Regions from separate parts of the Homo sapiens genome. Here all the other regions are linked to region 7. The links come from fine-mapping of genetic effects on gene expression. A gene starts in region 7. Each other region holds a variant in brackets. All regions are shown on one strand. Distances are between the middles of the regions. Region 1 has its middle 63 kb from the start of GPR78. Region 2 overlaps ACOX3 (acyl-CoA oxidase 3, pristanoyl). Region 3 has its middle 61 kb from the start of TRMT44. Region 4 overlaps ACOX3 (acyl-CoA oxidase 3, pristanoyl). Region 5 has its middle 34 kb from the start of LINC02517. Region 6 overlaps ACOX3 (acyl-CoA oxidase 3, pristanoyl). Region 7 holds the start of ACOX3 (acyl-CoA oxidase 3, pristanoyl).

Evidence for each region. PIP is the estimated chance that this variant, and not a neighbour inherited with it, causes the effect.
Region 1: its variant is the best candidate, but not a certain one, in a credible set for the expression of ACOX3 in whole blood (TOPMed, PIP 0.52).
Region 2: its variant is the best candidate, but not a certain one, in a credible set for the expression of ACOX3 in whole blood (INTERVAL, PIP 0.82).
Region 3: its variant is the best candidate, but not a certain one, in a credible set for the expression of ACOX3 in whole blood (TOPMed, PIP 0.63).
Region 4: its variant is the best candidate, but not a certain one, in a credible set for the expression of ACOX3 in testis (GTEx, PIP 0.78).
Region 5: its variant is the best candidate, but not a certain one, in a credible set for the expression of ACOX3 in sigmoid colon (GTEx, PIP 0.68).
Region 6: its variant is the best candidate, but not a certain one, in a credible set for the expression of ACOX3 in monocytes (TOPMed, PIP 0.89).

The regions. Positions count from the first base shown.
Region 1 is chr4:8,515,168-8,519,242 of GRCh38, forward strand. It overlaps a transcript of TRMT44 not described here. Among named protein-coding and RNA genes, the nearest start is that of GPR78, 63 kb to the right of the region's middle. The variant A/C (reference allele first, on the strand shown) is at 1,576.
Region 2 is chr4:8,418,314-8,422,377 of GRCh38, forward strand. The region is part of intron 1 of ACOX3 (acyl-CoA oxidase 3, pristanoyl); the gene reads right to left. Among named protein-coding and RNA genes, the nearest start is that of ACOX3, 20 kb to the right of the region's middle. RefSeq lists an enhancer at 1,182-1,231. The variant T/C (reference allele first, on the strand shown) is at 1,733.
Region 3 is chr4:8,499,600-8,503,674 of GRCh38, forward strand. It overlaps a transcript of TRMT44 not described here. Among named protein-coding and RNA genes, the nearest start is that of TRMT44, 61 kb to the left of the region's middle. The variant A/G (reference allele first, on the strand shown) is at 1,955.
Region 4 is chr4:8,390,958-8,395,030 of GRCh38, forward strand. It overlaps ACOX3 (acyl-CoA oxidase 3, pristanoyl), which reads right to left. Exons shown (of 18, transcript NM_003501.3): 10 at 3,663-3,785; 11 at 1,376-1,496. It also overlaps the pseudogene RNA5SP152. Among named protein-coding and RNA genes, the nearest start is that of ACOX3, 48 kb to the right of the region's middle. RefSeq lists enhancers at 1,673-2,478, 3,209-4,073. The variant GAAA/G (reference allele first, on the strand shown) is at 2,191.
Region 5 is chr4:8,352,039-8,356,113 of GRCh38, forward strand. It overlaps a transcript of ACOX3 not described here. Among named protein-coding and RNA genes, the nearest start is that of LINC02517, 34 kb to the left of the region's middle. RefSeq lists an enhancer at 1,251-1,801. The variant G/A (reference allele first, on the strand shown) is at 1,921.
Region 6 is chr4:8,367,154-8,371,228 of GRCh38, forward strand. ACOX3 (acyl-CoA oxidase 3, pristanoyl) reads right to left here. Exons shown (of 18, transcript NM_003501.3): 17 at 3,755-3,841. Among named protein-coding and RNA genes, the nearest start is that of LINC02517, 49 kb to the left of the region's middle. The variant A/T (reference allele first, on the strand shown) is at 1,787.
Region 7 is chr4:8,439,129-8,443,128 of GRCh38, forward strand. It overlaps ACOX3 (acyl-CoA oxidase 3, pristanoyl), which reads right to left and starts at 1,595. Exons shown (of 18, transcript NM_003501.3): 1 at 1,520-1,595. It overlaps TRMT44 (tRNA methyltransferase 44 homolog), which reads left to right and starts at 1,649. Exons shown (of 11, transcript NM_152544.3): 1 at 1,649-2,313. The coding sequence starts at 1,695. RefSeq lists enhancers at 1,483-1,722, 1,541-2,274 and silencers at 1,743-1,952, 2,003-2,062.

The sequences.
Region 1 (4,075 bases), 76 kb after region 7:
TGCTGCCCAGGCTGGTCTCGAAATCCTGAGCTCAAGCAATCCTCCCGCCTTGGCCTCCCAAAGTGCTGGGATTACAGGTGTGAGCCAATGCACCTGGCTTCACTTATTTATTTACCACCCAATTTGTTCTGGGTCCTGTTCTAGGCTCAGAGGAAATGGTCATGGAGGATTCGGGCTGACCACTGGGAACTCACGGTCCAGCGAAGGGCAGCGGTGAACAGCTGTCCTGGCTTTGCCCCTGCGGCAGGCCCATAGAATGACGAGAGCAGTTGGCATCCACAGCATTTCCTGAGCAGATGCTGCCCTTGCTCCCAAGCTGCTCCCAGCCTAACAGAGACAGAGGAACAGCAAGTGTCACCAGGGGCAGGGCCAGGGCTGTGGGAGCCCAGAGGAGTGCCTTACCCAACCCGAGTCGGGTGAGTCAGGAAAGGCTTTCAGGGGGATATGACCCCTGGGATGGCCTGAGGGCCATGCAGGAGGCGGGGCAGGGAGCAGAGGCTGGGCTAGGGGTTGGGGTGCTCCTGACCAAGGAGCAGGCTGGTCCCTCTGCCCAAATATTGTTCCCCAGGCACTGACACAGTTCACTCCCAGTGCCCTCAGCCTCCGCTCAAACGTTCCCTCCCCAGTGCGGGGTGACATGGGGCTGGTTCAGGGCTGTGCCCACTTGGTGAAAGTCCATCAAGCTGTCCTCTGATGACATCTGTACTTCTTCATGTCTGTTATAGTCCAATAAGAAGTGGGAAGTGCCTGAAAATATTGGAAGAGCTCGCCAGGCTTTCCACGCCTCTCTGTGACACCCTCCTTTGAGCGCCTGCATTCCTGGGAGTGAGATGGTTGTCCGTGGTCTCTCCCCCACGACAAGATGGAAGTTCTGCCCAGCTGTACGCTGGGGGTCTGAAACCGTCCCTGTAAACTTCATAAAATTAACCAGGGAAGAATAGAGGGGGGAAAACAAAAATGAACTCAGTGCGGCGCCCTCTGTGCTCGTCCCTGGGTGGCCACGCTCCAACCCACCACCTTGTGCCCATCTGCTGCTATGGCCCCAGAGTCACGCAGGCCCGGCCACAAGAGCATCGCCCCCTCGACTGCTCTGCAGACGACAGCCTGAGCACTGGGAACGTGTTTTCCCCTGAGATACCCCTTCAGGCTCTGCGTGCCAAGGACACTCCTGACACCAGCTGTCCTGAGGACCCCAGAGGAGCTGACTCGCCCAAGAACATGGTCCCAGATACTGATGACTCATCTCCCTTCCCTGACCTGACCAATCAACAAGCCTAATTCTCCAGCCCCTCACCCTTCACCATTCCCTGAAAAACCTCACCCCAGCCCAGGCTAGGTGCAGTGGCTCATGCCTGTCATCTCAGCACTTTCGGAGGTCAAGGTGGGAGGATGGCTTGAGGCCAGGAGTTCAAGACCAGCCTGGGCAACATAGTGAGACTCCATTTCTACCAAGAATAAAAAAAATTATCTGGGCTTGGTGGTGTGTGCCTGTGGACCCAGCTACTCAGGAGGCTGAGGCAGAAGAGTCTGAGTCCAAGAGATTGAAGCTGCAGTCAGCCAAGATCGCACCATTGC[A/C]CTCCAGCCTGGGCAACAGAGCAAGACCCTGTCTCAAAAAACAAAAAACAAAACAACAAAAACAACACCATCACCAGCCCAGAACTCATCAGAGAGGGTTGTTAGAGTTTCACCCATCTTCTCATGAGCAATGTGGCCTTGGCAATGATGTACGGTTGTAACAATGTAACCTTGTAACAGTGTAACCTGAACAAGCTTCTTGCAGATATCTCTTCTGGCTGATTTGAAACCCCAGTGAACGATTGGTGTGCAGATGGAGCCTCATGAGGGCCATGGTCTATTGCCCAGTTCATGAGTGTCTGGGGAGAGAATGGACTTGAAAGAGGAGCTAAGGACTCAGTGCTGATTTTAACAGCCAGAGGCCTTCGCTGGACTTGGGGTTCCAGCTGCTGGGGCTGCAGCAGGCACTGGCATAGTTGTCAACAGCCCCATCAGCCAAATGAATTATTTACAAGTTTTCAAGAAAGGAGACTGCAGGCAGCTGTTGGACCAGACAGAGGATAGAAGCCTCCAGGAGAAATAGGCAGTTTTCAAGGTTTCCTGGTATAATGATTCATCCAGAAATTTATTTGAAAAATTCATTTGTATCTAGTGGTGATCATGGCACGTCAAGACAGGGCCCTCCTGAGTTTCCTGCCCCTCTTTCAGTGCCAGGGAGCAGAAGAGGGAGGGGGGCAGAGGAAGCAACAGTCATCTGGTAGGGAGCTTGATGTCTCCAGGGTTCAGGAGGGGGCAGCAGGTGTGTCCCGACTCTGTTCCTCAACCTGCCGTGTGAGGCTGGGGGAGTCGTGTCCTCTCTGGGCCCCTGAATCCTCATCTGAGACCTGCACACAGGCCACGTGGCTCTAGGGTCCTTCCAGCTTAGCTGTCCTGAGTCCCCTGACCTTGATGACTGGCTGGATGTTATGCCCTTTCAAGAAGTCTGTCTTTGGCCCCATGAGGCTGTGGCTCAGGGGAGGGTAGGGCATGCAGGAGAGAAGGCACCAGCTCTGGGGTCAGACACACCTGGCTTGGTACCCGGCCTTGCCCATGCACCTGAGTAACCTGCGCTAGGCCCTTCCTGTCCTTGCCTACACAGGGTGGGCACTCGGATGGCACCTCCTGGCTTTCAGGGAGGGAGTGTGAAGTGGGGCCAGTGGGGTAGCTTTGGGTGGGGCCCTGTGGGGTCTGCATACCCCTGGAGCTGAGTGACAGCATGAGAGGGTCACCAGCACAGCCGAGGGCCTCTCCTGCTCCACCTCCAGCCCCTCACTCAGAGAGCCCCCAAAGGCACGACTGCCGGAACCCAGTCCCTCGGCAAAGGCACGCCTGCCAGAGCCCAGTCCCTCTGGCCGGGGCAGGGCCTGACACTTTGGCATGACCAGCTTCTTCCTGCACAAGCTCTGGAAGGTCCCATTTCTCCCTGGGGTGACCCGGACTTGAGGCCACGTCAGCAGTAGGCCATGGCTGGGAGGTGCCCATTTCTCTCGAGTTTGCACGAGGCACAAACTTCTGGCGTGGACAAGAGAGGGCGGGGGCCTGGGCAACTGCTTTTGCTCTTTTGGCTGAGAAGGAAAAAGTGACTTCCAAGAACTGAGGCGCATTCTAGAATCTCTCTATTCTGAAAGTGACCTTTCTCTGAGCCGGCACTCCTAGAAGGAACTGATTCTGGCCATGCAGGCTGCAGCTGGGCATTAGGGCAGAAGGGAGGGCGGGAAGCTGCTGGGCTTCTCTTTGCCCCAGAGAGAAGCAGCAGTGAAGATGCTGGGATTTGGGGAGTGTGGGCTCTGGCCTGGACAATTGGGTACCAGGTCTCGCATGCCCCCAGCTAATATCAGGCAATTTACCTTAGCCATCCTTATGCAAAATGAGAAAGGAGCCCTCACCATGCGGGGTGGCTGGGAAATGTCAGAGGGTGTCCCCACATCCTGGGTCAAGAATAGCCTTCGGGCCGGGCGCGGTGGCTCACGCCTGTAATCCCAGCACTTTGGGAGGCCGAGGTGGGCGGATCACGAGGTCAGGAAATCAAGACCATCCTGGCTAACACGGTGAAACCCCATCTCTACTAAAAATACAAAAAATTAGCCGGGTGTGGTGGCAGGTGCCTGTAGTCCCAGCTACTCAGGAGGCTGAGGCAGGAGAATGGCGTGAACCCGGGAGGCGGAGCTTGCAGTGAGTTGAGATCGCACCACTGCACTCCAGCCTGGGTGACAGAGTGAGACTCTGTCTCAAAAAAAAAAAAAAAAAGAATGGCCTTCGATACAGGCCCTTCTCTGCTCACAGCCCCTCTGGGAGCTGCCTCTCCTCTTCTAGCTGCACCAGCCCAGCAGAGGTGTGATGGGGACTCCTGGGCTGCCCCTGTCAAATGGACAGGGGTGCGGGGAGACACAGAGGCAGCTGCAGCTTCATCTAATGTTTTCTCCCATTCTCTCTGACTCTGATCATCTGAAGGTGGGGTGGGATGTGCCATGCATGGGGTGTCATTTGCCTCGAAATCTTCTTTTCTGTCCCAGTATTATCT
Region 2 (4,064 bases), 21 kb before region 7:
CCAGGCATGGTGGCACATGGCTGTAATCCCAGCTACTCAGGAGGCTGAGGCAGGAGAATCGCTTGAACCTGGGAGACAGAAGTTGCAGTGAACCAAGATTGCACCACTGCATTCCAGCCTGGGTGACAGAGCGAGACTCCATCTCAAAAAAAAAAAAAAAAAAAAATTCTTAAGACTCAATAATAAAATGACAAAAAACCAATTAAAAAATGGGCAAAGGGTTCAAATAGACATTTCTCCAAAGACAGACAAATGGCCAAAAAATACAGGAAAGGCCAGGCACGCTCACACCTGTAATCCCTTTGGGAGGCCGAGACGGGCGGATCACCTGAGGTCAGGAGTTTGAGACCAGCCTGGCCAACACGGTGAAACCCCATCGCTACTGAAAATACAAAAATTAGCTGGGCATGGTGGCGCATGCTTGTAATCCCAGATGCTCAGGAGGCTGAGGCAGGAGAATCGGTTGAACCGGGAGGCAGAGGCTGCAGTGAGCTGAGATTGTGCCATTGCACTCTAGCCTGGGCAACAAGAATGAAACTCGGTCTCAAAGAAAACAAAACAAACAAACAACAACAACAACAAAAACACAGAAAAATATGGTCAACATCATTAGCCACCAGGAAAATGCAAACCAAAAACCCAATGAGAGACCACTTCACATCCACTAGGATGGCAATGAGCAAAAAGATACTAAAATACTAAATGCCGGCTATAGTGGCACGTGCCTGTGGTCCCAGCTACTCTGGGGAGGCTAAGGCAGGAGGACAGCTTGAGCCCAGGAGTTTGAGACCAGCCTGGGTGATACAGCAAGACCTTATCTCTTAAAGAACCAGATAAATAGGCCAGGCGCAGTGGCTCATGCCTGTAATCCCAGCACTTTGGGAGGCCCAGACAGGTGGATCATGAGGTCAGGAATTCAAGACCAGCCTGGCCAACATGGTGAAACCTCATCTCTACTAAAAATACAAAAAAATTAGCCGGGCATGGTGGCAGGTGCCTATAGTCCCAGCTACTTGGGAGGCTGAGGCAGAGAATTACTTAAACCCGGGAGGCAGAGATTGCAGTAGCCTAGATTGCGCCACTGCACTCCAGCCTGGGTGACAGAGTGAAACTCTGTCTCAAAAAAAAAAAGAAAAAAAGAAAAAAGAAACAGAAAAATAATCACAAGTATTGAGAGGATGTGGAGAAATCAGACTCTCATGCCCTTCCAGTGAAAATGTAAAGTGACCCAGCCATTCTGGAGAACAGTGTGGCAGTTCCACAAGTGATTAAACATGGAGTGACCACATGACTCAGCAATTCCACTCTGAGGTATGTACGCAAGAGAACCGAAAACATCACGTCCTCAATGTGTGCAAGGCTCCCCGATTCACACCTCCAGACTCGTGAGCTCATTTGGCAGTCAACGGCAATTCCCCACCTCTCATGTTCTGGAGATGCCCATACTGAGTGTTCAACACTGAATTCAGCCTCTCAGCCCTGACCCAGCTTCGCCTCCTGCACCCCAGTTCCACACTGCCAGTCACCCAAGGATTACTGGAATTACAAACCCCAGTGTCATGTTGGAATTCCCCTCTCCATGCGCCATAACCTCAGTACATTACCAAGTCCACAGTGCATCTCTAACACCTTACGGAATCTTCTCATTTCTCTCCAGCCTGATAAAACCCTCATAACAACCTCCAGTTACTGAGCTGGTGCTGTGTGCAGGTGACTGTGTTAAGCAGCTACA[T/C]AGACCTCAACTGTGCCCACCAAGCCCAAGTACTATCAGTAGTCTCCTTTTCCAGGTGAGGAAACTGGAGCTTCTTAGAGACATTGACCATGGTCATACAACTATTATCAAGCACAGCTGGCTCCAAATCCCCAGATCCTAACAAGTACCTATGGGCCCATGCCACTTGAAGTCACCAACCTTACTGCATTATGGTACAACTGTTAGAGATAAGGATTGTGAAGCCAGACTGTCTGGGTTCAAATCTCAATGTTACAGCTTTCTAGCTGGGTGACCTTCCTAAGATCTGTGCACCTTGGGGGTGATAATACAGTGATGCTGAGAGACAGGACTAGCTGGATTTCCAAGGCTGACTAAGAATTCCTAAGCCTAGCTGGGGAAGGTGACCACACCCACCTTTAAACATGGGGCTTGTAACTCAGCTCACACCAGACCAATCAGGTAGTAAAGAGAGCTCACTAAAATACCAATTAGGCTAAAAACAGGAGGTAAAGAAATAATTAAATCACCTATCCCCTGAGAGCACAGGGGGAGGCACAATGATCAGGATATAAACCCAGGCATTCGAGCCAGATCAGGCAACGCCCTTTGGGTACCCCCCCGTTGAATGGGAGCTCTGTTTTCACTCTATTAAATCTTGCAACTGCACACTCTTCTGGTCCATGTTTGTTCCAGCTCGAGCTGAGCTATCACTTGCTGTCCACCACTGCTGATCATCGCCATCGCAGACCCACCACTGACTTCCACCCCTCCGGATCCAGCAGGGTGTCCACTGAGCTTCTGATCCAGTGAGGCACCCATTGCTGCTCCCAATCGGGCTAGAGGCTCACCATTGTTCCTGCATGGCTAAGTGCCTGGGTTCGTCCTAATTGAGCTGAACACTAGTCCCTGGGTTCCACAGTTCTCTTCCATGACCCACGGCTTCTAATAGAGCTATAACACTCACCGCATGGCCCAAGGTTCCATTCCTTGGAATCCGTGAGGCCAAGAACCCCAGGTCAGAGAGCAAGAGGTTTGCTGCCATTTTGGAAGCGGCCCACCACCATCTTGGGAGCTCTGGGAGCAAACACTCATCGGTAACATTTGCTGGGCTCGTATGGGGATTCTCCAAAGCGGTGAGTAATATTGAACCACTTTCACTTGCTATTCTGTCCTACCCTTCCTTAGAATTGGAGGAAAATACTGGGCACCTGTTGGCTGGTTAAAAATGATTAATGTGGCCACCGGACTTAAGACTCAGGTGTGAGGCTTTCTGGGAAAAGGCTTTCTAACAATCCCCAACCCTTTTGGGTTGGGAGCATTGGTCTGCCTGGAACCAGCTTCCACTTTTACAGTTTTCTTGGGGAAGCAGAGGGCTGACTAGAGGCAGAAAGCTGTCGTCCCAAATTCCCGGCATTGGCCGGTCAAGATCATGGCGCAGCCAGAAGTCTCTACTCAACAGTTGCCCATGCGTGCACCCCTATCTCTCCTTCTGGCCCATACCTCCTGGGTCCTAACCATGACTTTCTTGAAAGTGTAGCCCCAAAATTCTCCTTACCTCTGAATCTACTTCCTCTGATCCCTGCCTCCTAGGTACTAATGCTTCAGACTCACTTCCTCTCCCAAGTATTAGAGCAAGTTGTATCTCCAAAGGGATCTAAGGAAGCTCTACGCTGTGTCCTTAAGCACCTAGGGTATGAACCCAGGGAGTCTTGTCCCTGGTGTCCCTCCCAATTTAGATATACAGCTCTCGACATGGGAAGTTATGTGGGACCTACCACCCTTGCCAGGGCCCCAAGTTTGTAAATGGCTAGGAGGATTGCTCTCCCATTGTGTAAGATGCTCTCCTCCCCCAATTTCTACCCAGCTTACCTCCCCCACTGCAATACAATCTCTAAGCCTAGACTCCTTGGCCAGGGCCTTAGAATTGATGACCCAGTACTTTAACAACTGGAACTGTGTCTACGACAACAGAATAGATCAGGAAGAAAGCGAATTGAGTAAATTAAAGGGAGGCGCATATTCCTATAGAGGCAAATGGGGGCAACGAGCGAACATTCTTCCGCTGTGTTCCCAAAATCCATCTATCAAGAGAGAGAATGAGAGGGAAAGAGAAACAGAGAGAGAAAGGAAAGAGAGAGAGAAGAGAGAGAAAGAAAGAGAGAGGGGGGAAGAAAGGCAGAAAGTCAAAGAGAAAGAGAGAGACAGTCAAAGAGAGAAAGAAAGAGAGAGATATATAAGTAGTTAAGAAAAAAACAGTGTACCCTATTCCTTTAAAAGCCAGGGTAAATTTAAAACCTATAATTGATAATTGAAGGTCTTCTCTATGACCCTATAACACTCCAATACCACT
Region 3 (4,075 bases), 61 kb after region 7:
TGTCCTGAGGGTCGATTTAGTGTCATGCCTCTTTCACCACCACCACCAAAGATGAAACCAACAATAAACTAAATACCGTGTGTTCTCATCTATAAGTGGGAACTAAATAATGAGAACAGTGGGCAGAAAGAGGGGGATCACAGACATGGGGACCTACTTGAGGGAGGAGGTTGGGAGGAGGGACGGGTTCAGAAGAAAACACAAAACTGTCAGATGCTACACTGAGTACCCGGGTGATGAAACAATCTGCACCCTGAACTCCTGAGTCAGGAGTTTACTATATAACAAACCTGCACATGTACCCTTGAACAAGAAATAAAAGCCAAAATAGAGAGAGAGCTCTCAGCCTATGGGCGCAGTGGCTCATGCCTGTAATCCCATCACTTCGGGAGGCCAAGGCAGGACGATTGCTTGAGTTCAGAAGTTCAAATCCAGCCTGGGCAACATAGCAAGACCCTGTTTCTATGAAAAAAATTAAAAATTAGCTGGGAGTGGTGGCATGTGCCTGTAGTCCTAGCTACTCTGGAGGCTGAGGCAGGGAGGACTGCTTGAGCCTAGGAGTTCCAGCCTGGGCAATGAAGTGAGACTCTGTCTCTAAAAAAATAAAAACAGCTGGGTGCGGTGGCTCATGCCTATAATCCCTGCACTTCAGGAGGCTGAGGCGGGTGGATCACCTGAGGTCAGGAGTTCGAGACCAGCCTGGCCAATATCGTGTAACCCTATCTCTACTAAAAATGCAAAAATTAGCTGGGCTTAGTGACGTGCACCCATAATCGCAGCTACTCAGGAGGCTGAGGCATAAGAGAGAATCGGTTGAACCTGGGAGGCAGAGGTTGCTGTGAGCCAAGATAATGCCACTGCACTCCAGCCTGGGCAACAGAGCGAGACTCCCTCTGGAAAAAATAAATAAATAAATAAAATAAAATAAATTAAAAGCCCTAGTCCCCTTAGTCTTAGCTGAGACTCAGCTCAGTGTGTCCTGGAACCTCTTCCCCACTCCAGGGGTCTGAATGAAGCCAGTCTTGCCACCTTTCACAAGTGTCTGGCAGGCACTGTTTACTTTTTTTTTTTTTTTGAGGCAGAGTCTCACTCTGTTGCCCAGCCTGGAGTGCAGTGGCGTTGACCTTGATTCACTACAACTTCCACCTCCTGGGTTCAAGCAATCCTTGTGCCTCAGCCTCCCGAGTAGCTGGGATTACAGGTGTGCACCAACATGCCCAGCTAAATTATTTTGTATTTTTAGTAGAGACGGAGGTTTCACCATGTTGACCAGGCTGTTCTTGAACTCCTGGCCTGAAGGGATCTGCCCTCCTTGGCCTCCCAAGGTGCTGGGAAGACAGGTGTGTTTCCTGTGATGCTGGGACCCCCACCCTGTGCTGTAGCACCCATAGATAGAACCACTTCCTCAGTGTGGGGGTGAGAACGCTTGGGAAGCACTGTATGAGGGAGCTCTGCCCTGGGCCAGAAACCCGGATGCAGCCCTGCCAGGCCCCCAGCTGTGGGGCAGGTGGTCGTGCCACTGCTCAGTGGATCCAATTGAGTGCCTACTGCATGGCCGGCAATTCCATGTGCTGGGGATAGAGTGACAGCAGAGGTGATGGCTTGTGCATGTGCAGGGCGGGAGGTGGCCTGTGGTGGAGCTGGCAGGTGGCCTGAGGGGACCCCTGGTCCATCGGGGGATGTGGGGCAGGAGAGACCCCACCCCCAGTTGGCCCCTGCAGTTCGAAGTCTGAGAGATGGTATGTAGGCTGCTGCTATTAATAGCAGCATGAGCTCTGGGACCGGATGTCCTGGGTTCAAATTCCAGCTCTGCCTCAAAAACTTGCAACCTTGGGGAAGTCACTCAACTTCCTGTGCCTCAGTTTCCTCCTGGGAAAAATGGGGATGAGGATAATCTTGGCAGAGGATTGTTGAGAAGGTTGAGTACATTTGGAGCCTAACAGCTTTAGCGGGC[A/G]CTTGGCCACTGTGAGAACTCAGTGAGGGTTAGCGATTTCACACAAGGGCCTTCTCACCAGGCTCCGGCAGACGGGACATTCCTTTGCTATTTGAGATGTTTTTGGACTCTTCCTCTCCCTCTTTGCCCCTTTCCCTTTTCCTTTCCCCTTCTTCCCTTCTTTCTTCTTATGGGGAGCTAGCTGGGAGGTGCTCAGTTGGGGCCCTCAGTGACTGGAGTCTCAAGGGCTCTGCTGCCATCGGCTGTGAGCTCAGCAGCCCCTGTCCTTTCTGGGCCCCAGCCTCTCCATCCAAAAACCAGAAGGCTGCCTGGAAGGTTCCAGAAGTTGCTCTTGGTCCTGACCCCTGCCCACATCTCTCTGTTGAGAAGACTGGTGCCACTCTGGGGACAGCTGGCTTCCCGCCTCTTCCCGGGTCCCTGGGGAAGTAACTCCTCTCCCAGGAGGAGACAGACAACTGGTCCTCTGAGCAGCAGCTGAATTTTACAGAAGGGCTATTGATTGTTTTGTTCAAAGAGGGAGAATAAATTTGGTTCTGTGAGTCATAACGTGACATTCTCCAAAATGGTTCTGACCCATAAAACGGGGGCTCCTGTTGATATCAGCCCTGAAGGTTAATGGGTGTGTTTTCAGAATACTCTGCCAGGAATGACTCCAGAAACTGCCCTGAGTGCATCCATGGGAATGGTCCTCGGGACAGGCAGCCGCCATGAAATAGACACCCTGCCCTGCCTTCTTCCTGTTGGTGTTTGTTGACCACATCTGCAATCCTCTGATGAAGCAGGGGGTCAGGTGGAGGGAGAGGAAGCTTCTGAATATTTCTAATCTTCAGCTGCTTAAAAAACTACAACGAACTTAGTGGTTTCAAGGACACATATTTAGCTCATGGTGCAGTGGGTCTGAAGTGTGAGTGCAGCTTAGCAAGGTTCCCTGCTCACGGTCACATCAGGCTGCAATCACGGTACCAGCCAGGGCGTTGGTCTCAGCCGAGGCTCAGCTGGGGCAGGCTCTGCATCCACACTCACCAGGATGTTGGCAGTATTCGATTCCTTGCTGGCTGTTGGCCAGAGACTTGTTGTGCCTCAGTTTCCTCTTTGGCAAAGTGGGGTTGATTTTTCCTGGCCACAGGCCCTCTCCCAGGGCCAGCTCACACACAGCAGCACAACCAGTTATGATCTTATGCAAGGCTGTCAAGGAAGCAGTGCCATTGCCTTGGTGGATGCTATTGGTGAGACGCAGGTCCCAGGTCCCAGCTCCCAGATCCCGCTTACACTCAGGGGAGATTAATCAAAGGTGTCAGTGCCAGGAGGTGGGGAACATGGGCCACTACAGGGTCTGCCCACCACTCTCTGGATTGGCCCAAGACCACTTCTTCTTCACCCTTGAACACACAACAGACACAGGCACACACAGACTCAGCACAGGCTTGAATACCATCGGGATGAGGTAATGTCATGGGTTGAGGGGGCGTTCCCCACCCCTCACCTCCCACATGAGAGGCAGAGGCCAAGGTTTGGTTTCTGGCTGTGACCCTGGGCTGCTTTCCCACTGGGTCTCTGCTTCATTATCTGTAGAGGGAGGACTTGGACTTGGCAGGGGTTCCTGGACAATTCTCAGCCAAAGAAACCCGACCCCTTCCCCAGGCTGCAGGAGCCGCATTTAGGGGTGTTCTCCCGCTCTGCACACACACCCTTGAGGGTCTACTCCATTCACCTTGCAAGGCAAGCTGTCCCCTACAGCCCCGGAAAGGGTGGCACTCTATCCCAGCAGACCCTAGGCCGTGGCTGCAGCAGTCGGACCGGCTCAAGCATCTGCCCCGGGGAAGCAGCCTAAAGCAAGAGAATCACCCACATGGGAATCCGGACCCAGGTGTGGAGGACACTGGGCTGACAGTGTGCACAGGGCCATGCACCCACCAGCAAGGGACACAGCACTCGGTCCCAGAGGTGGCCTCTGTTGTGGCCCCAGCCTGCAGAATGATCTCAGGCAGCCACCCGGATGGAGGGTTTGGTGGAACTCCTGGGCCACATACCTCAGAGAACACAGCAAAGAGTCAGCACCCAGTAAGGTGCAGAGAACTTTCCACCCCGATGCCCACACAGGGTTCCTGCCATCAACGGGAG
Region 4 (4,073 bases), 48 kb before region 7:
AACCTAGATGGAGCCTCGGTCATATTGGTCTCAATCCCAGCATATGTATATGTATGTGTATATGTATATGTATGTGTATATGTATATGTATATGTATATGTATATGTATATGTATATGATTAATCTTGATTCCATCATCTTTGTTGTCTGCAGTACTGCAAGATTCAATTTCCTTATTCAACTATTTATAGAATCCCGATGAGTTACAAAGACAAAAACTACTAAGGGCATTGCGCAGAGGACAAAGCATGCAAATGAGTAACTTGTGTACAGCCATGGCTACCCGCATGTCAGTAAGTGACAAAGACAGATTGTGGTGGGAGTGAGGGGCCACGTTGCTAACAGCCCATGCTGGAACAGGTGCGAGTTAGAACTGCAGTGGTGGGCGGATGATCGCTGAAAGTGTGTGTGTAGTTCTAGATAGAGCATCACAAAAACTCTCACAAACTTGGCAAGGACCAAGTGCTCCTGGAGGGCAAGAGAGTTTTGCTGATGCTGTGGCTGTTTTGAGTGTGTACATGGCCTTCTTTGAGCAACCAGTTTTTGCCAGTTAATTATTTAAGATTAGCACACGGGAAGTTTTGCAGGTAAGCTGTAAATAATGCTGATGATAATTCTAATAATAACAGCATTAGCAAATAAAAAAGTCATTGGGCACGCACTACATGCCAGATACCATGCTTACACTTCATACGTGGTAATTCACTTAATTCTGGCAAGAACCTATGTTGTGGGTACACTATTATCACCCCCACTTTAAAAATAAGAAAACTGAGCACAGTGAGGTTAAGCAACCTGCCCACAGTTACCAGGCTGTTAGATGGAGCCAGGACTCAATCCCAGGCAAGCTGGTGGCCTCCGCTCTTAACCATATAACAGCTGCCTCAGTCATCATCAATGCCGATATAACTAACTCTTTATCTAAGTGTAAGAATTTTCTATTCAAACAAAACATGGTGCTAGTTTACTACCAAGCTGTTAACCAAATAGTTAAAATTCAAATGAGCAGATCAGCTGCTCTCTGCCTATATTTTGGCCAAGAAGCATCAGGCATCTGAAAGCAGTGGGATCTATCTAGGGCAGGGGTTGGCAAACTTGTTCTGCAATGGACCAGAGAGTAAATATTTTCAGCTCTGTAAGCCACATGGTCTCTGTCACAGCTGCGATTACTCATCTCTGCCCTTGCAGTGCGAAAACAGCTGCAGGAAATGTGCAAATGAACGGGGGTGGCTGGCTGTGTTCCAATAAAACTTTATTTGCAAAAACAGGTGGCAGGCTGGATTTGGTCCTCAGGCCGCAGTCTGCCGACCCCTGGTCTAGAGTCAAACAGCAGGGCTAAGGACAGGAAACCACCATGCGCTTCTCCAAAACCTACTGGCCAGATAGCCGTGTCCTCCACACGCCTCCCGGCATTCCTGAATTCCTTGCTGGGTGGTCCACGAGGCCAGGGGCTTGCTGGCCGATGCCAGGGCGTGGATCTCACGTCCAAGCTCTGCCTTTGGGTGAGGGAATCCAACAAGAACAGGTGAAAAGAGACTTTAGACACCAAAAAGTCATAAGTCAGCAATAGCATCAAACCACCATATCACCTCTAGTCTAATACAAGACATCCCGAAAATGACAGAAGAGGAAACCTAATTGTAATTAGAAATAAAAAAGGGTCTTTATCCAAGTATGGATACACTGTGGTACGCTCATACCATTTCACAACAATGAAAACACAGCTCTACACAGCAAATAGCTCTCAGGGCCCTAACACGGGTCCCAGAAGCAAACTGCAGAAGAATGTGCGTCATGGCCCACTTTATATAAAGTTCACAAACGTCAAAGTGAATGACACACCATGGAAGGTTGCAATTGTTTGCAGCGAAACCATGAAGAAAGGCCAGGGAACCAGACTCAGCACCGCAGACAGTGCTCGCTCCCAGGACAGGGAAGGGCCGGGACCAGTCCATTCCCAGAAGGCTGCAAGCGCCTCGGTAACTGATGGTCTGCTCTGTGTGGGGGCTCACCGTGCCTCCCTCAGGCCTAACATGTTTTATTGAGACTCCTTTGCTGTCCATGGCCAAACTACCCTGAATGAGCCTGATCTCGTGAAGCTAAGCAGGGTCGGGCGTGGTTAGTATTTGGATGGGAGACCGCCTGGGAATAGCAGGTGCTGCAGGCTTTTTTTTAAGGGGAAAAAAAAAA[GAAA/G]GAAGACTCCTTTGCTTCTGCTTGATATCTAATGATGAAAACTTAAGAGGCTGGGCCAGGCACAGTGGCTCACGCCTATAATGCCAGCACTTTGAGAGGCCGAGGCGGGCAGATCAGTTGAGCTCAGGAGTCTGAGAACAGCCTGGGCAACATGGTGACACCCTGTCTCTACTGAAAAATAAAAAAAATTAGCCAGGTGTGGTGGCGGGCACCTGTAGTCCCAGCTAGTCTGGGAGGCTGAGGCAAGAGAATTGCTTGAACCCAGGAGGCAGAAATTGCAGTGAGCCAAGATCGCACCACTGCACTCCAGCCTGGGCAACAGAGCGAGACTCCGTCTCAAAAACAAACAAACAAACAAACAAACAAAAACTTAAGAGACTGATTCAGAGTAAAAGAAGAATTTTTAATTTTAAAAAAGAAAGACAATTAAAAAGGAAAAACAATTAAGAGGAAGACACACACACGCACACACACACACACACACACGCACACACACACACACACACACACGCATGCTAAGTCCAGTGACCCATTTTATGAGTGTTTTCAACTTCACATAAGGGGCTGAGCTGAGGCCCTCCTCTGCCTGGGTTAAACCACTGAGTTTCAGAAAGAATCAGCCTGGTCACCCTTTACAACATTATTCACAGGAGAACAATGCAAGTGTCAGCTGGCAAAAGCTCCACTGACTCACGCTCCAGGGAAAACACAGGCTTAACCCCTTTAGTGGTCAGAAGCGCTCCCTCCTCAGGCCTCCAGGCCTGGGGTTTGCTCTGCCATCAATCCTGCAGGTCATCCCTTCGCCATCATCTGCCGTGAATGTGGACACCGATAATATTTCAAGATATGCTAATTAGATACAGGCTTTTTCTGATGTTGTACATAACAGCAATCTGTGGCGTTTCTCCTCTGCTTTCAAACACGGTTATTTCTTTTGATTCACATTTCACTCTTGCTCAGGAGGCAGCAGGAGGGACAATGGAAAATCAGTTCATAATCATCTACAAAGAAATCCGTTCCCGATGTCTCTTTATGCCGAGGCTGATCTCGGGATTTGCACGCTCGTTTCTGGCACAAATCCTCTGACTGTCAACTCAAATCCAGTCAGTGGGATTCAGACCTTTGTGCAGCTGTTTACAAAAGGCTCAGAACCATGAAATCCACTGAGGGGCGGGTAACGTGGATTTTGCAAAACCGTCATGTTCTCAAAAGGAGACCAACAGCTGAACTCACAGACTGGAACCGGGAGTCGTGTCAGCACATCCTTGAGAGGCAGGGGTGTGGACGCGTGCCCAGCCCGTTCAATCGCGGCAGAGGCCAAGAGCTCCGAGTGGGTGGGAACAACTGGAGGAATGCTCTGTCCTCGCAAATCAAAGGACTGATTTTGCTTTGAAATGAAGGTTGAATCTATGCTGCTCCAACCGTGTGAGATTTAAACGATGCTGCTGAGGAAGCAGACACCACCTCACCTGTCTGGCGCTGCGGTCTCCCGATGCAAGTCCTCGCTGGAGCTCCACCAGGTCCAGGAAGAGCGACTTGGAGAAATGGTCTAAGGCGTAGACAGCTGCCAGATATGGAAGCAAGCGCCATTGCTAGAACAGACAAGACACCTGCGTGAACACATCGTGGTTCCCATGAAGGGCAGCCCATCCCAGGGACCATGAAAGCCAGTGCAGGGAGAGGCCGTCAGGGCCACACACCCACTAGCGCTGAAGGTCTTCACATGTCTTCCCGGCACATCAGAAAGCCTTCACCCTGACACGCTCTCAACTCAGCCAGTTCGGCTTTCACCCATAGCCCTTGACAGACAAGCTCAAACGCAATTCGCTAAATGGCCGCTATTCACAGCTGTCCCATCAAAGTCACTACAGAACAAAGTG
Region 5 (4,075 bases), 87 kb before region 7:
TTTTCATTCCCCAAGTGCTCGGCCCTGTAAGACTAGATGTGTATTTTCTCTTGCAAAGCAAACAGTTCAGCACAATGTGGGCCTCCTTGCTTGAAAGAATTCAGATGGAGCTTGTGAACCACATAAAAGGTTGAGCAAACCTTGTTCCAAACTCAGTGCAGTGGCTGGGCACAGAGCCGCCCGGGACTGAGCAAACCTCCTCGTCTATCTCCTAGGCAAGGGTGTACATGGAGGGGGTGAATGGAGGAAGGTCCTTCCACAAGTCACTGCACATTTTCCCTTCACAACACAACACGGGGCTCCCACTGACCACTGCAGAGCTGGGGACATCCTCCTCCAAGCTTCACAAAGCAAACCAAGTCCCTTCCTGGGCGGCTGCTGGACAGCCTGGTGGGATGGAAATGAGCTGAGGTCAGTCCCTGCACTTGAATGGGTGCAGGTGGGTGGGGCCTTCCTGGAAGCCACAGGAACACCGGTTTCTGGGTTCTCATGCAGAGTGGCCCTGACTTCCCAGATTTAGGATCAAAGCCCAGAGCCCAAGGGAAACCCTCTGATGTAAGCTGCATGACAGCAAGTGGCCCCAGAGGGGAATGCAAAGGCGAGAGTGCCGGGGACCACGGCACAGCACATGCGGCACAGGCCCGCCCAGGCCAGAGACTGAGCGCATCTTCCCCTCCTCACATGGAGAGTAGAGGCTCCGGCAGGGCCACAGCCCCCCAGCTGGGTTCTTCTGCACGTGCCTGTGGGGCCAAGCAGTCCCCACCGTGGCCAATGCTGGGGCTCCGTGCAAGAAGTCTGTCGCACCCTGCCCAGCTGCCTCGAGCAATTAGGAGGCGGCTCCCACACCAGGAAGGCCACCTCCAAGGTTCCTAGGTCTGGTCCAGAGAGACAGGATGCTCACAGGCAGGCAGCAAGTCCAAACAGAAGCCTGGGCTCCACTCGAGCCATGGCCCCAGGGCTCAGGAGAGCCACCCAGGGTGGACGGAGTCGCATCTGTGCATGCCCACCTTGCACTGCAGAGGGACCCAAAAGTGCTCTGCCCTGGTTTTTATACCCTGGGCACCACTGGGCTCACCGAGCAGACGTGTTGCAGAGTATCCTATCTGGGAGGACCAAGGCCACACCCTGGGCTGTTCGGGTCATTTCCTCCTTTTTCCAGGGTGTTGCATTCGGTCAGTTCTGCAGGAGAACTGCAAGCCAGAGAGGGAAGAGTTGTCGTCCATCCAGGGCCCTGTCCTCCTGCAGTCACGGCCTGTAGTTGTGCTTCCACTGTGGTCCGTGATTCCCATGGCATGCCCCACTCCATAGGGTGGCTTTGGTCTCATCGTGGTGGCACCATGGCTGAGGCCACCTGAAGCTCCTAAGTGTCCAGGGCAATGTCCCCCGGAAGTGAGAGGCCACTTCTGTCCCAACGTCCCCAGCCAGTCTTTAAGACTCAACAGGACCCTTGGACTTTGCCTCATCACTGAGCCAGTCCTTGGGGCCAAGGGAATGGAAGGTGCTAGGGCACTTCAGCTAAGGCGAACCAGTGCCAGTGCTGGGGCAGGGCAGCTTCCCAAGGCTTGGGGCTGTCCACATCTGGGGAGAAATCTGGACAGAACTGGGGTTCTGTTAGTGAGGAGGAAGGGTTGGAAGTTGGACAGGAAGCCCACAGGGTCCACCACACAAGGAGAGAAGCCAAGACCCCCTGACTTCCAGGGGACCCATGGCTGGGGCATGCTTCAGATGGGGACACGGCCCCATGGGACCCATGAAAAGCCTGTGAAGTGTCTTAGTAAAAGGCCCACATGAACAAAGTCAAGGAGGAAGGCAGTTTCTGGTGACGAGGAGGTGGTCCTATGGCACATGCTGTCCCCACACAGTGCTACGTGTAGCTAGGTGTTCACTAAATGCTGGTCAGATGGACACTCCCTGCTGGCC[G/A]GCAGCCCAGGGGCTGGAACCACCTAAAACCTGGAGGGTGGGGTGGATACACAATGATGGGGGAACGTGATTCACGCTTGGGCTGAGCCGTCAGAAGTGCATCCAAACCAAGTTTCCAAGAGGCTGCTCCATGTCAACTACACATCCTAAAATGAAAGAGTTCCCACGCCTCCGCCACCATCAAGATCCTTAGCAGTGACAGCCGCAAAGACCTCAACCCCAAGATATTTCTGGGCTTTCACAGATGATGGGGTCTGGCTGATTTTTATCTTCTTCATCCGCCTGTGGTTTTGAGATGTCTCTGCAGGCATGCATCCCAGCTGGCCCCGTGTAGCCGCAGGAAGCTCCCTCTGTGTTTAAGCTCACAGTGAGAAACTTCTCTCATTCTGCAGGCATCTCCCTTGGTGAGTCACAGAGATTTCTGGCCACGGGCACAACCATGGGCACACACTTGTGTCCACTGCCAAGCAAGACTGTCTTTCCAGTCCACCGTCCACATGGCATCAAACTAATACGAAGGCTGAAGGCATTCCCATAATGGCAGACACCAAGCAATGGTTCCCCAGCATGGTGTGAAAGATTGATCCCGCAGGGCCAGCAGATGTCATTAGACAGGAAAGTTAAATGACGGGTAAAAGTTTTGGAAGGTGTATTAGTCCGTTCTCACGCTACTATAAAGAACTGCCCAAGACTGGGTAGTTTATAAAGGAAAGAGGTTTAATTGACTCACAGTTTAGCATGGCTGGGGAGGCCTCAGGAAACTTACAGTCATGGCGGAAGGGGAAGGAAACACGTCCGTTTTCACATGACGGCAGGAAGGAGAAGTGCCAATTAAAAGGAGGAATGCCCCTTATAAAACCATCAGATCTCATGAGAACTCACTCACCATCACAAGAACAGCATGGAGGTAACTACCCCGTGATTCAATTACCTCCCACCAGGTCCCTTCCATGACTCGTGGGGATTATGGGAACTACAGTTCAAGATGAGATTTGGGTGGGGACACAGCCAAACTATATCAGAAGGGTAAGGGTAAACCATCACTATTTGCCAATGATAGAGAAGGAAAACCAAAGAGAATCAATGAAAAACTGTCATAATTAAAATAAGGTTTCAATAAGGTGACCAAAATAAACATACAAAAATCACACAGCTTTTTATTACAAACAGCTTGAAGAAATAGTCTTAGATGGGAAGACCACTTACCATGAAGACAAAGATTCTCCTGATGTGAATCTAAAAGTTAAACAAAACCTCCAGACAAACTCCAGAGAGCATTCTTTAATATGGGGGTGGGAGAATGCCCAGACTTGACAAATAACACCAAAGTTCACATACATAAGACATTTTTGGAAAAGATGAGAAACGAGGCTTTATTTGCTCCAACAGATATTAAAAGTATGAGAACCACAACCATGAAAACAACAGAAGCTGATGTGAGAAACAACACTAAAATTAAACAGTGCAGACACAGGTCCAGCGACAATGATTTTAGCACTCATACAGGTGGCATTTCGGTCAGTGCATGATGATTCAGTGGGCAAAGCATTTCAGATCCTTGTCTCATATCACACCTCGAAATACATTCCTGGTCAATTAAACACTGAAACGTACTCAGAGAAAAAGAGATGAAAGTGTAAATAATCTTTGTGTGAGAAAGGACTTTCCAAGCATGACCTCAAAGGCTAGAGCATAAGAGTCTTCGTTTTAAAATGTGCAGGCATTTCTGATTTAAAAATGTAAACTATAGCAGGTTACATCAAAAAGGAAAAAAATACAGTTAAATGGCAAATGATGCATGAGGAATAATGATTTACAGTGAATATGTTACAGGTTTGCTGTGCTTAATATGTACAAATATCTTACAAGCCAACAAAATATTTTCAAAACTAAATGCCTTCTTAGATAGAGAACAAGAATGGGCAGTTATCACAGCAGAACATATATGAACAGACTTCAAGCACGGGGGAAGGTATGTTCAGCCACAGTAGGGGCAATAAGAAGGAAATCTATACAGAAGACACCAATTTTATGTTCTCATCAGGTCGGCAACAGGCAGAGAACAAACAGGCCACTGCTGGCAAGACTCCTACATTCTAGAGGGAATGAGGGCTTCCTGTTGAACATGCTGGGAAGAGGAGACTTACCATGTGCT
Region 6 (4,075 bases), 72 kb before region 7:
CAAATGCAACTCCTCAAAGTTTTTGTTAAAAACACAGGAAATTCGGCTGGGCACAGTGGCTCACGCCCGTAATCCCAGCATTTTGGGAGGCCGAGGTAGGCAGATCACCTGAGGTCGGGAGTTTTAGATCAGCCTGACCAACATGGAGAAACCCCATCTCTACTAAAAAAAAATTCAAAATTAGCCAGGTGTGGTGGTGCATGCCTGTAATCCCAGCTACTCGGAAGGCTGAGGCAGGAGAATCACTTGAACCTGGGAGGTAGAGGTTTCAGTGAGCCGAGATTGCACCACTGCACTCCAGCCTGGGCAACAAGAGCAAAACTCCGTCTCAAAACAAACAAACAACAACAACAATAACAAAAAAGCACAGGAAATTCTCTGTCACTTTTTAGAGAAATTTTAAAATGGTTTAAATTTATATGAATATTTTCTTTTTTTTTCTAGTAGAAAACAATTAGGACAATTCAATTATAAAGTACTATAAAACACATTTATAATGAAAATCACCCCTCGCCCTCTTCTTTGGAAATTATTGGCTGGGTGAGGTGGCTCGTTCCTGTAATCCCTGCACTCTGGGAGGCTGAGGAAGGCAGATCACTGGAGCTCAGGAGCTTGAGACCAGCCTGGGCAACACGGCGAAACCCCATCTTTACAAAAAAAAAAAAAAAAAAAAAAAAAAAAGCAAAAAATTAACTGGGCATGGAGGAGTTCACCTGTAGTTCTAGCTACTTGGGAGGCTGAGGTGGGAGGATCACTTGAGCCCAGGAGGTTGAGGCTGCAGTGGGCCGAGATTATGCCACTGCACCCCAGCCTGGGTGACAGAGTGAGATCCTATCTCAAAAAAAAAAAAAAAGAACTGATCGTGGCAGTGGACACGCTGTTTCTTAGTAACTGCAGCCACCGCAGGATGCTGCAAGGCTGCATCGACTGCTGCTCTGAAATCTGCTCTCACACCCCAGGCCGCTACAGGCCGCACAGGTGGCACGTGGCCACCAGCAGCAGGATGCCCTCGCCGAGTGGCCCTTACTGGCTGATTTCTGGACCTGGGCCACCACACCCTGCTCCTCTGGTCCTGCCCCGGGCCAGCACTCCCCTACGGGAGGTGCAGACTTCACTGCTCTCAGCCTAAGTGGCCTCACTGGGAAGATGGGGAGAGACGCTCCTGTCTTGGAGGAAGGTTGTACAAATGAAGGGCGAAGGGCAGCTGAGCAGACACTTCACCCGTGCAGGGTGGAAAGGGGCAGCCCAGACCATCTCCAGGGCCTGGGGAGGTGGTCTATTGTGTATCCAGCTTACGCTGACCCATTTTATTGAGAAGAAACCCCTCTGCCTGCACCCGCTAAATGCACTTAGCAACCCCTCCTCCCCACTCTGCTACTCTGGGCTCCACAGACACAGACCCAGGCTGCTGCTCCACAGGGCCTAGGTTCCAGCTTATGTTTCACAGTTTGGAGCAGCGGGCTTGATTTAAGGATGGTCTCAACTCCCCTGCAGCTCTGTTTGTTCGCTTATAGTGAATTTCTCACCTGGCAGCTCCTGGTTAATACACCAGTTCCTTGCAACTGGAAGGAATGCACTTTTTTTTTTTTTTTTGAGATGAGGTCTCACCCTGTTGGCCAGGCTGGAGTGCAGTGGCGCGATCACTGCCCACCACAGCCTCGACCTCCCCAAGCTCAGGGGATCCTCTCACCTCAGTTTTTGTAATTTTTATGGATGGGGTTTCAGTATGTTGCCTAGGCTGGTCTCAAACTCCTGGGCTAAAGGGATCCGCCCGCCTCAGCCTTCC[A/T]AAGTGCTAGGATAACAGGTGTGAGCCACCATGCTCAGCCAGGAATGCACGTTTAATAAACCATCCTGCCAGCGACACCTCCAGCTGGCTCTGGTTTTAACTATGGAACCCAGAGCCAGGGGGCCCCTCCATCATGGGCAAGGTCTCTCCTTTCCTTGGTCGTTCCCTGCCTCAGAGACGGGCCTGCCTCTGCAGAGCAAGGCACAGCAGGTAGACGCTCAAGGCCGCTCCGGCTTCTCCTGCACGGGGCAGACAGTCCCGTGTGCTTGGGGGTCCTCCATGGCGGGTCTGGCTCCAGTGTCCCTTCGAATGCCTGTCTGCCTGGTGAGCCCCCACCTCCTGGGGAGACTGCCTCTCCCAGGAAGGTGGGTAGGGCAAGTCCCTCTCCTATGCGCTCCCCCAGGACCCAAGGCTCCCGCCAAGTCTTCTCTCCCTACAGCAGGGCACAGTCTCTTCAAATCCTGGCTCTGCCACTCCCTGGCTGGGAAACCCACTGGGCTTCTCTGGCTCTCAGCTCTCAGCGGCAGTCATCATCTGGGCTGTATGGGCTCTGGGGATGGTCAGTGGTCAGTCCCCGATGCAGGACAGCAGGCCCTCTGCAGAGATGACCATCCCTGCCTCTCCTACTACGGGGAACTCTCACCTCCTGCCCTGCCCACCCGGCTCCTGGCACTACCTGCCTCTTGGCACACCTAGCCCAACCCAGGTGTAGCCTGGGCCGCGCTGAGGCCAGGCGCTGGGCCCTCCCTGGCTAAGCCGGTAAGGGCTCATGTACAGACTTCAGCATTCCCTGAGGACTGAGGGAGGGTCCTGCCCACTAAGGCTCAATCTCCATTTGGGCAGAGACCCAGGTGCTTCAGCAGGTGCTTCAGCAGAAATAACTCAGTTGCGGGGCCAGGGGGCAGGGATGGGGTCAAACCCCTCTGTGACTCACAGCCAGGGGACCTCAGGCATGGGACATGAGCATTGACACGCCGAGTCCCTCTAGCAGAAGACAGACACAGCCCCATAAGCAGTGGGGTGCTGGAAGGCACCCAGTGGACCTGTGAGCATCGCTCCTCGAGGGCATCATCAGGTGGGAGGGAGACACAAGGTCAGTGATGAGGCCAGCAAGGGCAGCACTACAGTGCCTGGGGGCACTGCCTCAGCTGGAGGCCAGAGAAGGCCTCTCCAAGGCAGCAATAGTCAGCTTATACTGAAAGAATGGAAGGCACTCCAGGCAGCCCGAGCAGCAGGCACAAGGCCCTGGGGTGGGCATGGGCCTGGCGCGACAGACGGGGAGGCCAGTAAGGCTAGATCTGGTGGGCAGGAGGGGAGCGTGGGGTGAAGGGCCTTGGAAGGATTCAGTGGCTGTGTGGGGCTGGGGCGTGGCAGGCAGTCGAGGAGGCTGGTGGAGGCTCCCTCAGGGGGGCGGCCTGACCCCATCTGCTATGAAGGAATCATTATGGAACATGGGGGGCAGGAGGAGAGCTGAGGAGCCACAGGGAGGCGGTTGGGGGAAAGCGGGGCAGGGGAGAGTAACCCCGGTGACAACCATGGATGGTCAGAGGGGACAGAGGGGCCTGGGGATTCCAGGACAGGGATGGGGGAAGAGGCCTGCAGGGCCAGGAGCATGGTCAGATGGGGGTAAGACCTGGGACCGGGGAGGCCGGGGGGAGTGGGAGGAGGGCAGAGGTCACAGTGTGTGGACCTCCAACCTCTGCCTGTGCAGGCGGGCAGTGCCACCACCCCATCTCGGGAGGAAAAGGCAGGCAGGGGATGGGCAAGTCCCCTGCAACCACAGAGCCAGCATGGGGAAGCACCAGAGTGAGACAGTCCTGACTTGTCCCGGGCCCTCCCCAAGAAGCTCCTCCATGTGTGACCACTTTCCAGAAGACACCAGACCCCTGACCCACAGGAGCATCTCAGCTCCGCAGAAATGCCCATCAACCCTTGGGGCACTCCCGTGAGGCCCTGTCCTCCCTTTACCTCGCCGTCGGCTCTGCCAATCGGTGAGTCCAGAACAAAGTCAGGAGGAGCGATCACGTCTACCAGGGCAACTGCATCGTCTTTCAGCTGTTGGAAAACAAAGCCCAGACACTTGGCACCTCCCGGGAATTTCCATGGTGACCAAAGCATAACAGCCCCGTGTGTGGTTGCCAGGACCCACTAGCAACGGGTCACCTGAGCGGCACGTGCGGCTCTGCTGCCCATGCGTGATCTCTTCACCGGCCTGGATTCGAGGCCCTTGCTGTGCACTGGAATGTTCTCACCATGCTGCTTTTCACTCAGGACTTCTAGGGCTTGTTT
Region 7 (4,000 bases):
CAGGTAAGGACCTCTTTTGTCCTTGCTGGATACAAATATGCTGTATATTGTTTTGTTATTGTTACCCCCCATAACCATGCTAGAAGAAACACCTATATAAGGTGTCCCCATTGTACACATACTACTTAGTCAGGAAACCCAGACCCGTCCAGCCCAGCAACAATTCCGAGTCTTTAAGTCATTCTTTAAACACATAAACCAGAAGTTACAAGAGCCTCCTCCTTTAGCAAAACAAACAAACAACCTATTTGCTCAGCTGGCTGAAAACATTGCCAGCAGCCTAGACGTTTCTTCATGTTATGTTTATAAAAAGGCTAACATGAGAGACCAATGGCCTTGAGAAGCAAAAGATTTAATGCCTCAAGATTACTTTAACTCTTTCCCCAAGCAGATGCCAAGTTCAAGCATTTGGCTCTTAAAAACTCCTATTATTAAGAAATACTGTGTTGCTTGCTAGGAAAAAAGCTTTTAAGACCCAGTAAAAAAACTAACCTGCTTAGGACATGACAAAGTTGGCACATGTGCCTGTACTGGTTTAACACAGGTTTGATCCTAGGTCTTTATTTAAAAGATAGTTTCCAGCTATAAGAGAATTTAAAACCCTCACTGCAAGTGTATTACATAAAACACTATCACTCTGTCTCCCAAAGAGACTCAAAGTAAAAATAAAAGCGAGAACTCCCACTAATTTGTGAAAATTCTCAAAGGAAGGGATAAGGAGACCACTACTACTCCTGCTGCCCTCCTCCCTGCCACCTTGCCTAGTTCATAAGACAGGAGGAAAAGAGAGAAAGCAAAAAGTTAGAAAGAAACAAAAGTCAGATAAATAGCCAGACAACCTTGGCACCACCACGTGGCCCTAGGAGTTAAAAAAAATAATAATAATAACATCAACCCCCGACCTAAACTACTTGTGTTATCTGTAAATTCCAGACATTGTATGAAAAAAGCATTGCAAAACTTTCTGTTCTGTTAGCTGATTCATGTAGCCCCCAGTCACGTTTCCCATGCTTGCTCAATTTATCACGACCCTTTCACGTGGACCCTTAAAGTCGTAAGCCTTTAAACAGGCCAAGAATTTCTTTTTTGGGGAGCTCAGCTCTTAAGACGCAAGTCTGCCGATGCTCCCGGCCGAATAAACCTCTTTCTTCTTTAATCCGGTGTCTGAGGAGTTTTGTCTGTGGCTTGTCCTGCTACAGTAGGTGACAGATGACTTTCATCCCTCATGGGACAACGTTACATCATTCTTATGAAACAGCCATGGCTGCACTCAGACTTAGGAAGGCACTGGCTGTAATGCCAGCACTAAAAGCAAACCAGAACCCAAGTGGAGAAAAGTTAGCTTTCATAAGAGGACTCATCTTTTACGTTCACAAACTTAGGCTCCCTGACTTTTATCGGTAATCAGTACTGAGGACAATGCGTTCCACACCCGCTGGCTGGCTGATGTTTGATTCTGTAACTATACCACGCCCAGAATTCTCTCAAAAGGGAATAAAACACAGGTCAAATTCCTCACCCACACACTCCACAGTTCAACCCCTGCCAGGGAAACCAAAAGCAGGAAAGGATCTCCAGCGGCGCCATTCTCATTTCCGGTCCCAGCACCCCGCCTCCATGACGTCAACGCGCCGCGCCACCGGGCTGCGTCATCTCGGCGCGCCGCTGCCAGGGCTGTACACCTGCTGGCTGCCATGGCTGAGGTGGGCCGTACCGGGATCAGCTACCCAGGCGCGCTTCTCCCACAGGGCTTCTGGGCTGCGGTCGAAGTGTGGCTGGAGAGGCCGCAGGTGGCAAACAAACGGCTTTGCGGCGCCCGCCTGGAGGCCCGCTGGAGCGCCGCCCTGCCCTGCGCGGAGGCCCGCGGCCCCGGGACTAGCGCAGGCTCGGAGCAGAAGGAGCGGGGTCCGGGACCCGGCCAGGGTTCCCCCGGAGGGGGCCCGGGTCCCAGGTCGCTATCAGGACCCGAGCAGGGCACGGCATGTTGCGAACTTGAGGAGGCCCAGGGCCAGTGCCAGCAAGAGGAGGCACAGAGGGAAGCCGCCTCAGTGCCCCTGAGGGACTCCGGGCACCCCGGCCATGCTGAAGGAAGGGAGGGCGACTTCCCCGCCGCAGATCTGGATTCGCTTTGGGAGGATTTCTCCCAAAGTCTCGCCCGTGGCAATTCGGAGTTGCTGGCCTTCCTCACCAGCTCCGGGGCGGGATCGCAGCCAGAGGCGCAGCGTGAGCTCGACGTGGTTCTCAGAACCGTCATCCCGAAAACTAGCCCACATTGCCCCCTTACAACTCCCAGGAGGGAAATAGTCGTGCAAGGTAAGAGTGTTTTGATAGTGGACGGATATGATTAGATAAAAAAGCATTCATAGAACCTCGGGTCAATGAAAAAGTCCTAAGGGTACTAGTTCCTCTGCGATGTCCTAGGGAGGTTGTTAGGTGTTTCATAGTTTTTTGAGTGGGCGCATAGAAATGTGTGTCCTTAGTACAGAAGATGGGATAATTGATTGGGGTGGTGTCTGGAAGGCTTCAAAGAGACAGTGAAGGACTAGCTGGATATTGCGTAATACCTAGGAGTTTAGCAGGTAAAGCTGTAGGTGTAAAAGTGTTGGGGACCAGCCTCAACACCACCCGTAGGGTACTCAAAGTCCGGTGGCGACGAAGGAATGAGACGAGACAGGTTAAGAGTGCATAAAGATTGGGGGCCAGGGGGCCAATTGCAAAATGGAGGCTGCCAAAGCCTGGGAGCTCTGGTCTCCACACTATTGAGTACAATCACTTAGATCTAAGAAGCGGACGTTCGGGGCGAAAGGGTGAAAGGGAGACAGTGCATCATACATGTCATCTATAGCAGTGGCGGTTTAAATGAATCTCCTTTGTGCTCAAACAGCGTTATCTTTAACTTGTCGGAGAATAACCAGTGGGAGCGTGCTTAACTAGGAGCCTGCATGTCTGACCACATTGTAGTGATTCAAAGGAGTGTCTTTCTCCTTGAACACAGTGTTTATAGGTAAGACAGTAGGTCTCGCCCAGAGCATGGGAACATCATGACAATAAGAAGGCTTTCCTCCTCAGAGGCCTCTTGTGGCTTTCCACAACTTATTGTCTCATATTTTTATGGCCAGTTTATACAGGCATGCCATAAGCCTTTTCCCCAACATAAAGAGAGCTATTTATGCTGAGACAAATAACTGTGAAAGAGCATAGAGACTGGATGGATGGGAACCTACTAGTCCTCAGCGTTCGTTAAATCTCTGGCATTTATTTTTACTGCCCGTGACCTTGACACTTCAGCCTCAGCCACTCTTACCTGAAACTTTATTCAGCAGCATGTGTTTCGTATTGCCACTGTAACAAATTACTGCAAATTCATTGGTCAGTACAAAAAATTGATTGTCTCAGTTCTGTAGGTTAGGAATCCCCATTGGCTCTGCTGGTTTCTCCGCTGTGGGTCTCTCTCACGAGGCCAAAATCAAACAGCCTGCCGGCTGGGCTCTTATTTGGAGGTTCTGGGAAGGAATCTGTTCTCAGGCTCATTCAGTTCGTTGGTAGAATCCAATTTTTTATGTAGGACTGGGGTCCTTGTTCCCTTGCTGGCTGTCAGTTGCTGGAGGCTTCTTTCTGGTTCTTTCATGCAGCTTCCTACATCTCAGAGCCAGCAATGGGGTTGAATTCTTCTCATACTTGGAATCTCTCTGCCTTCCTCTCCTGCTGCTTCTCTCCTCCGCCTCCAGCCAGAGAAAATTCTCTGCTCTTCGTGGCCCATGGAGTTAGGCCGGGCTCACCTGGATAATCCAGAGTACTCTTCCTCTTGAGGTCTGTAACCATAATCATGTTTGCAAGTGCCCCTTTTGCCATATAATACAGTATATTCACGAGTCCTGGGTATTACGGCATGGACACTTTTGGGAGGCTCTTCTGCCTACCTCAGGCAGCAATTGCTGGGAGGTACATAGTCCCCTCTGATGGCTCCCAATACTGTCTGCCTCTGTGCCTTTGTAAGACT